Regions from separate parts of the Homo sapiens genome. Here region 2 is linked to region 1. The links come from fine-mapping of genetic effects on gene expression. A gene starts in region 1. The other region holds a variant in brackets. All regions are shown on one strand. Distances are between the middles of the regions. Region 1 holds the start of ERBB4 (erb-b2 receptor tyrosine kinase 4). Region 2 overlaps ERBB4 (erb-b2 receptor tyrosine kinase 4).

The links. PIP is the estimated chance that this variant, and not a neighbour inherited with it, causes the effect.
Region 2: its variant is fine-mapped to the expression of ERBB4 in stomach (GTEx, PIP 0.93).

What each region holds. Positions count from the first base shown.
Region 1 is chr2:212,536,351-212,540,748 of GRCh38, forward strand. It overlaps ERBB4 (erb-b2 receptor tyrosine kinase 4), which reads right to left and starts at 2,452. Exons shown (of 28, transcript NM_005235.3): 1 at 2,099-2,452. The coding sequence starts at 2,180. RefSeq lists an enhancer at 983-1,483.
Region 2 is chr2:212,377,583-212,381,980 of GRCh38, forward strand. The region is part of intron 1 of ERBB4 (erb-b2 receptor tyrosine kinase 4); the gene reads right to left. Among named protein-coding and RNA genes, the nearest start is that of MIR548F2, 47 kb to the right of the region's middle. The variant A/T (reference allele first, on the strand shown) is at 2,032.

The DNA of each region.
Region 1 (4,398 bases):
TACAGTTTCCAATGGATCACCTTAGTATGCGTGTTGCAATTATACCAGGGATGCACCCGAGAGCTTTTCTTTGTGCGGCCCTTTCATCTGGATCACTTTGTGTTTTGAACAAGTGAGGCTCGCCTTTGTGCCCCCAGAATTTCAAGTACAGAGTCACACACGGAACAACAATGGCACGCTAATCCTCGCGCTCTAAATGGGCTCACTTGTGGGTCTGACAATTCGCCCAGGGAAACGAGAAGAGACGAAGCGAGGGCGCGAGCTAGTGTCGCCTGAGACGAGGAAGAGGACAGCTGCAGAACTAATTTGGATTACATTCCTTGCAGAAATTCTGAAAAGGGCTTTTCGGCATAGCTCAACTCGGAGCCGCACAGTTAATACCAAATTGCTGCGGACTCGGAGCGGGGTCCCCCAGTGGCAGAGGCTGAACCAGACAGCCCCCAGTAGGTCGCCTCGTAGAAATTCCTCTCGGCTAAGCCTGCATGTCGGTCGCCAATGCCTTTGAATGGGTCAATGTGCATAATCAACCCATTGAGGGAAAATATGAAGGGACTCGAAGTGGGGAGGGAGATAAAAAGAGATGTATCTAAGAGGCCGCTTGGAATGTCAAGTCCGTGTTGGTGTGATTCCGGAGGTGGCTGGAGCGCGGGACCTGGTATGCGTGAAGAATTTCGGAGTAATTGGGAGGGTGCAAACGGCCAGCACAAACGCCTCACATGTGCCATTCGAAGGTCATTTTGAAAGACTCGATAATTGTAACTTGTTATTTACTAGGCAAAGGAGGCGGCGGCGGCGGCGGCGGCGGAGCGGGAAAACTACAGCTAGCCGTTTTCTTGGTGAGGTCAGAAGGACACCCTCCGGGGGCCTAAAGCGCTCCCTATCGCCACTCCCGGGGGCTTTATCACCTCAAGCTACTTCCCACGCTCCAGTCACCATCCCTGGATGGTTTCGGAAATCTCTCTGGCTCTCCAAAAGGCACCCCTTGGCCACGTCAAGACACCGGTCCTCCTCAGACCTCTCCCGTCCCACTTTCATCCCCAGGAAACTCTAGTGTCAGAAACTTTGAGCTCCATTGCACTGCAGGTGCTGTCATTAGTCCTGCAAGCCGTGGCGGGCCAGCCCCGCCGCGCTGCCTCTCGGGGTCAATTAGCCCTTTGCCTGCCCAGGTACCTGGGGCTCGAGCTCTCCAGCAAGCAGTGGCCGCGCACCCATCGCCGCTGCCGCTTTCGCCTCGGGTGGATCCAGTGACCCGCAGGCTCGGCAGCCTGGCCGGGCAGTAAACAGACAAGTTTGAAGGACTCCGGCCAATAGCAAGTTGAACTACAGGAAGAACTCTTCCCGGAGCCAAACACGGCAACCGACGGGAAGGCCGGGCTTCTGGCTCAAGTGTGCCAAGCCTTTTTTTTTTTTTTTAAGAGGTCAGGCAGGCGAGTAAGCGCCCCTCAAGTCAATGGGGAGAGGGCTCCGGGAAGCCGGCGGAAGAGGCCCAGAACTCCGGGCCCCGGACCGAGGCGCGCCCGCCTGCTGCACTCCGGCTGCCCGGGCTGGGCGCGAGTTGCGTCTGACGCCACAAGGCTCGGGCGACTGGGGGCGCAGCGGTCGCCAGCAGCACACACAGGTGCAAAGCCCGATTTTCTGAGCGCCGCTCTCCACCGCCCTTCGGGCTCGGCTCGGGAGAGGCCCAGCCAGCACCGCCCCAGGACCGCGGCCCCGGCGGTGCGGGTTCTGCCCTCGGGGACCCGACAGGGACAGAAGAGTCTCCTCTGACTGGGGATTTGGGTCTCCCATGTCCCGAACAACAGGCGCCACCAGAAGGGATCCCGCTTAGGCTCCCAAACAAAACGCTCGGGAAAGAAAAGCAGGGGGTTAAGGAGAGAAAAGAGGGACTCAGAGTGATTTTTCACGATAAATAAAGCAAACGCACACATACAGGGTAAGTTTCAAATGGAAAGAGGGGTGACCGAAAGCCCAGGGAAGAGGCCCCGGTCAAGCGGTCCCTCCACGCCTCCCGGGATGGGTGAAGAGGGCAGGGGAGCCACTCGAGGCAGCCCCGCCGGCGGCTGCAGGTTCGGCGACCGGAGTGCCAGAAGGAACCCACCTGACTGAGAATCGCTGGGCTGGACGGTCCCCGCCGCCACGAGAAGGCTCACCCAGACCCAAAGTCCTGTCGCCGGCTTCATTTTTTGGAAGTCTCAGATCCCGTGCTGACAATTACATGTCCAAATGGCATATCCCCCTTTCGGGCACGCGGAGGAGATCCCCCAGCCGGGCGCGCGTGGGGGTGCGAGGGGGGCGGGCGCGGCGCGCGCGGTGTGGCGACTCCCAGGGCGGGCGACCGAGTCCGCGCCCGCGGGTCCAGGGCCGGGGCCCGAGGAGGGGGCGAGTGTGAGCGCGTGTGTGCGCGTGTGGGAGTGTGCTCGGTGTGTGCGCTTGGCGCTCTGGGCCGGACTGTGCAGCTATTTCCCCGCGTGAGCCTTCGCTTGCTCGCTCCCTCCTCACTTTCTCTCTCTCTCACTGGTTGGTCAACAATAAAAAAGGAAGGGGGGCGAAAGGTTTCCAAAAAAAGTTGATTGCAAAGAGGCGGTAGGTTTCCGGCCTCTCCCCGCAGCCGGGCTATGTTCTGCTCCTTCTTCAGTTTCCTTGCACCTCCAGTCCAAATCGGGAGGGGAGCGGGGCGGGGGGAGCTTCTCGCTTCTCCCCGGATCCCGTCCTTCTTTTTCCTCTCAGCTTTCCTCACACTTGTCCGGCGGCTGCGGTAATTAAAGCTCCGAGCGTCATTTCCAGCGCTCCGCGGTCTCCAGCTGCAGCCCACAGAGAAATTAATAAGACTCCAGAAAAAAAAAAAAAAAAGGTGCGGGGGGCGGTGGGAATAAAACAACCCTCCACGCAACCAGGCCGGCTCTGCTCAGCCGCGCAAACCCCGCCCATGCTCTGACCCAACTAGCCACGCCCTTCCCCCCCCCTTCCAAAGGGAAATCTTATTGGCTCAGCCACTCCCCAAAATCCTGGGCCTCCGGAGTTGGGAAAACACCTGTCAGGGAAAGGGAGCCTCTTGGTGGGGGCAGGGGAAGCTGGATTTAAAGGGCTCACCGAAGCCATGCACTGAAGCACTCGTCTTCCCTCCCTGGCAGAGGCCTGGGACAGCTGGCCTGCTGAGTGGACGGACCATTGGAGGGCCGCTTACGGAAATTTTTTTTTTTTTTAAACAAGAAAGTCAGCATTTTCTCCGTTGCCCCACGGTGCTCATCTACAGACAAGACTTTCCCTAGAAATAAAAGTCAATGTTGCTTTCAGCAAAAAGCCTCCGCCCGCAGTACTCTGCCACTCATGGTCCACAATTAGAAAGTACTTTAAAAGTGTGTACAGCAAGTAACTGGTAGCCCCTGAGGATTAGGTAGTGGTAGGGGTATAATCACCGCCCCGCCTCCCGCCCCCAGTTATGCCATCTCTCCGATTACTCCCACATTTCTAAACTGACCAACATTGAGCCAAACTAAACTTTCACATTTATAAAGGCATATCCTTTGATTTTTAGATTTTATGTTTTTTTTTCACCTTTGGAGTTCATTCTTATTAAGCAGATTCTAGTCCAAAGCCACTGATTTGATCTTAAAGGGCTAGAAATTGTCCCCAGCCTGAAAGAATTTAAGGAGGCCACATCAGAACATAATTAACCTTAAATGATTCTGTTTATTCTACAGTAGACCCAGCTTTAGGCCCCTTCCTTGTCCTCACTCTGCACATTCATGGTCCCTAATCTGGAGGTCATTGCTAGTTACGAAAGTCTCTGACCTTTTCTGAATCTAAAATATTCTGGGACTGGGTCATTTCAATGTACATATCCCTTGCCTTTTACAGCTCTGAAACCGCACCCTGGCAAGGGCCAGAATCTGCTGGGGGTAGTTATTGGTTTGCTATTTGTACAGGCATTCTATGTATGAATCACTTTCCTTTTTTGGTTTTTCTAGAAGCAGCAAATATATAAATAAAAAGTATCAGGGGAGCTTAAAAATCAAACCACCCTGCCTTTCATTTGAGACCTTGATCTCCATTTCCCACTCTCTTATCTATAGCCCCATCCCTTAAGAATTTCCATGGAGCTGAGAACAGATAGGAGGTACAGATGCCTGAAGCCTGAAGCTTTCCCTTTCTTAGACCCACAGCAAATAACAGGCTCCATGAAGACGCCCAACAAGCTGAGCGTGCGGTTTTACCAGAAGCAGCCTAGGGCAGAGAGGAACTAAGCCTAGAGCAGATGACGGAGACTTGACCAGAATGGTACTGATTGCAGCAAAACTGTGCACACTGCTCTTTGGGATTATCTTTGTTTTCTTTTCTTTTCTTTTTTTTAATTACTCTTTCTCTCTGTTTTCTCTTCTTTCATTCAATCTCTTCTCA
Region 2 (4,398 bases), 160 kb before region 1:
CACCTGTCTAGGGGACCTACCTTGAACAGAGCTTCCAGGACTAGGAGTTGCTCTAGGTGAGTCAATGGATGGGTGGTGAGTAAATGTGAAGGCCTAGGGCACTACAGCTACTACTGCAGACTTTGTAAATGCTTTACACTTAGACTACACTAAATTTATAAGAAATATTTTCCTTTCTTCAATAATATAACCTTAGCTTACCTTAAGGTTAAGTTTTAAAAATCCTTTGTTTCTTACTTCATAAGTTTTTTAATTTTTTAAAACTATTTGTCTCTCTTGTAATACTACCTACTTTAAAACACAAGCACATTGTACAGCTGTACAAAAATATTTTCTTTCTTTATATCCTTCTTCTATAAGCTTTTTCCTATTTTTATCTTTTAATTTTTTTTTGTTAAAAACTGACACACAAACACACATTAGCCTAGGCCTACACAGGATCAGGATCATCAATATCACTGTTTTCTACCACCACATCTTGTCCCATTGGAAGGTCTTCACGGGTAATAGCACGCATGGTGTTGCCACAACATTATAATGGTTACAATGACACTAGGCAATAGAAATTGTTTGGCTCCATTATAATATTATGGGACTACCGTCATTAATGCAGTATTGTTGGCTGAAATGTCATTATGCACCTCTCTCTCTCTCTGAGGAAGACAGAAGAGCTGCTTTGAACAGAATACTGTTCTATATGCCATCTGCATATAGAACTTCAAAAGTCTCAATAGAACCAATGTTCTTTGTCCAAGTTGATAAGGTAAAGAGCCCTGCATTGAGCATTAAAATAACTGACTATCCTGTTTTAGAGATGGAGGTACTCACACTATCAGGAAACACTGAGATGTTTAGCAATTATTAACAGTGAGAAATACTTTCTTATGTATGATATAGTCTTCCATTGGCCTTTTGTCTCCAGCAAAGATACTGGGGTACCATCTTCTGGGAAATCAGCCTTGAGAGAGTTATTTTCACCTAAAATTTGAAGGCCATCATTCAAAGCGCTCATTTTTTTTTCCCCTTCCCTGGTCAAATTCACTCGCAACTAAATATTTTTATTCAATCTTCTTTATCTTTTTATTATCTTTGTGGCTACATGATTAATATTTCTCTGAAGTTTGGTCACTATTAACTCAGTATAGTGCTGTACATTTATACTAACACATGGTCTACACCAGATCAAAATTATATCATATGCATTACCAATGTTCGAGTTAACAATTTATAAACTTCTGCACAGACATGCAGTAGTAGGCATTGCCATTTATGCTAAATTTCTGATACTAATAAACTATTTAAAACTGATGATTTTAGTTCCATTAAAATGCAGAATTTAGGTGAGGTTCTAAAATATTTTAATATTCATCGTATGGCACCCAGTTGTTTTTTCTTTTGTAATTTTGAAAAATTTTAAATGTCATTACATTTATAGTAGAAATAATCAAAGTCCACTTTCATTTACCACTTAGTTTCATGAGTAAAAAGTTCAAGTGAAATGTTCAATTTTTGTGAATTCACAATTAAAACCTTCAAACATTAGCTGAAATTTTCCAGCAATATATTTTATTTGATTATCTAAAGAGGGGGAACAAATTCTAATTGTAGCAAAGCATTAGTAAAGATAAGTGAAGCTCATGTAACTGTTATCCTCAAAGTCATTATTAAGTTATCTTGTGCTCATTTGCTCATGTTTAAACAAGATTTTCCATTTGCACACAGCAACAAAGTAGTCGTCAATATGCCAGTAACCACACAGTGATAAGAAAGAGCACAGCTATGTGAAGTTTAGAACAGCTCCTTTATTCAAATATCTACGAAATAAGAAAAAATTTGTAATGTACCATATATAAATGCAGTATGACGAAAAGTTATCAATAAAAAATATGGAAATAGAGTCAACATTTGTGTAGACTACCTTTACTAATGTCTAATCAGGAATGATCACTGAATATTATCTTGAGCCAGAAAGATCTTTTTAAAAATTCTTTGTCAATCTATTGCCAAGAAGTCCATTTCCACAGCTCTTTA[A/T]CTTTAATAAACTATTTTTGGCAATGGGAAAAAAGAAAATGGAAAAAGAAATCAAGTGGAAATTATCATAACAAAATAAAAGTGACACAATGAGAAAGAATCTTAAAAATTAATCCCCCACCCTGATATTTTGGGGGAAAAACACTCAATTTTTCTATCATATATATTTTTCTTTTCTCTCTCTCCTCTGTGTGTGTGTGTGTGTATGTGTGTGTGTGTCTGTGTGTGTGTGCATTTTCCATACTACCAATGGGAGGCTGAAAGCAATGAAAGACAAAACATTGTAAGCATTTTTAAATATTCAAAATAAAATACAAAATAAATGTACCGCAAAGTCACACCTACCAGGCACCTGTATCAGTTCTACTTTGAAGATACAGAAAATGCTAAAGAGTTGTTCAAGTAGTAGGGCTAAGGACAGTAAGTCTCTTTATAGCTGCCATCTAATAAGGTTTTTTAAATTTTATATTTTTCTGCTACTCTGCTGCATGATTATACACACACACAAACAGACACACATCTACATACACACAGTTGGTCTTCTATATCCATGGGTTCCACATCTGTAGACTCAATGATTAGTAAATAGAAAATATTCAGGGGAAAAAATGTGTCTGTACTGAATATGTACAGTCTTCTATTTCTTGACACTATTCTACATCTAATAAAGTTAAAAAAACTATTTAAATAGCAATTACATTGTATTAGGTATTACTAGTAATTTAGAGATGATTTAAAGTATATGGGAAGATGTGCATAGGTTATATGCAAATACTACCATTTTATACCAGGGACTTGAGTATCCATGGATTTACCAATACCTCAGATACTGAGGAATGACTCTGTGTGTGTGTGTGTGTGTGTGTGTGTGTGTGTATGATGTTATGCTAAGTGATAAAAACAGATTTACAACTGATGTATTTGTTTAGGAAATTGACATCAGGAATGCAGCTCATTTATTTTAAGATAGTGTACTTGATAAAAAATACACTTAAGTTATACTTAAATATATTTCATTTATATTAAATATATTTTATTTTAATGTATTAAGAGTATTTATGTATATATTTTCTCACGAGAATTTAGGCTCTTTGAAAATGTATCATACATCTTTATCATTTATAATTACTACCTTGCACCCTTTTTCAATAATTGTTAAAATCACATCTGGAATCCCATAGCAATTGATGACATTTGGTTATAATTAGAGATTAAATCAAGTATATTGTATTTACTTAAAGTTTATTCAAATAATATTTTCAAAGTTAAAGAAAGGCCCATTATTTATTTCACAACACAAAATCATATATTGGGTAGTCGGAATTAAAGCAATCTAAATTTCCTAAAGCAAAGGAGATAGGTTTCTTTTTTCGTTTTCATTGTTTCAAGTAAAATGATTGTTTTTCCATAATTTAGAAAACAATAGTATCTTCACCGAAAAAAGTCATAGTTAAATGTCTTCCCACATCACACAAAAGATTTAAATTAATTATTGCTTATTTTTTCCTGTTTAAAATGCTAACAAGCTTAAAACATTATTTATATTTCACAGGAAAAATGATTCAAATTATCCTAATTAATGCAAAATTACCAAACCAAAATCTTACAAAAATTAGATGAGTCAGTTCAAAAAGTTAGATAAAAAGTCAAAGGTTGGCTCAAAAGAAGCAGTTGTACCTAAATGATTAAGTAACCACTTCTACAGAGGTATTTTTCACTCTGCGTTGGAAAGGTGCACTGAGGTTAATCTAAATGTAGCCTTTTTCATCTGTATACCAGTTTCCAGACTGTCTTGTGTGGTATAATTTACTTGTTGCTTGGAAAACCATAAACAAAAATAAGTGACACTATTACATGTATATGTGTAGTGAGACATTACTTTTTCCATGTTTTCTCCTCTAACCTAAAACTTTCTTAACTCTCCAAGCAATTGCAGCCTGTCTTCAAATACCACCAAATCAACCATTTTGAGTTAAAATTGGGCTCTCTGCCAAGTAATTAGTCATGTCTCCAATTGCCTTATTAGATTTATTCATGACGGAATCATATTATGACCAGAAAAAAATCAGAGCCCCAATAAAAATCCAGTTGAGCTGTCTAGGCATCACTTAAAATTAATGTAACAAAAATAAATTTATTCATAAATGCATTATATACCCTCACAGATAACCAAGTCTTGAAAAAGTCAAAGCTCAGAATTGTAATTATTTTTTGATATTTCAACTACCCAGAACTAACCTACATTAAATCTGTTTTTATATATTATAACTTTATATGACATCATTCTTTTTTTCCCCTTAACATTAAAAACAGTTTCCCATATAACTCCAGTGCCTGTGTGATATTCTGTAGATCCTCACTACTCAA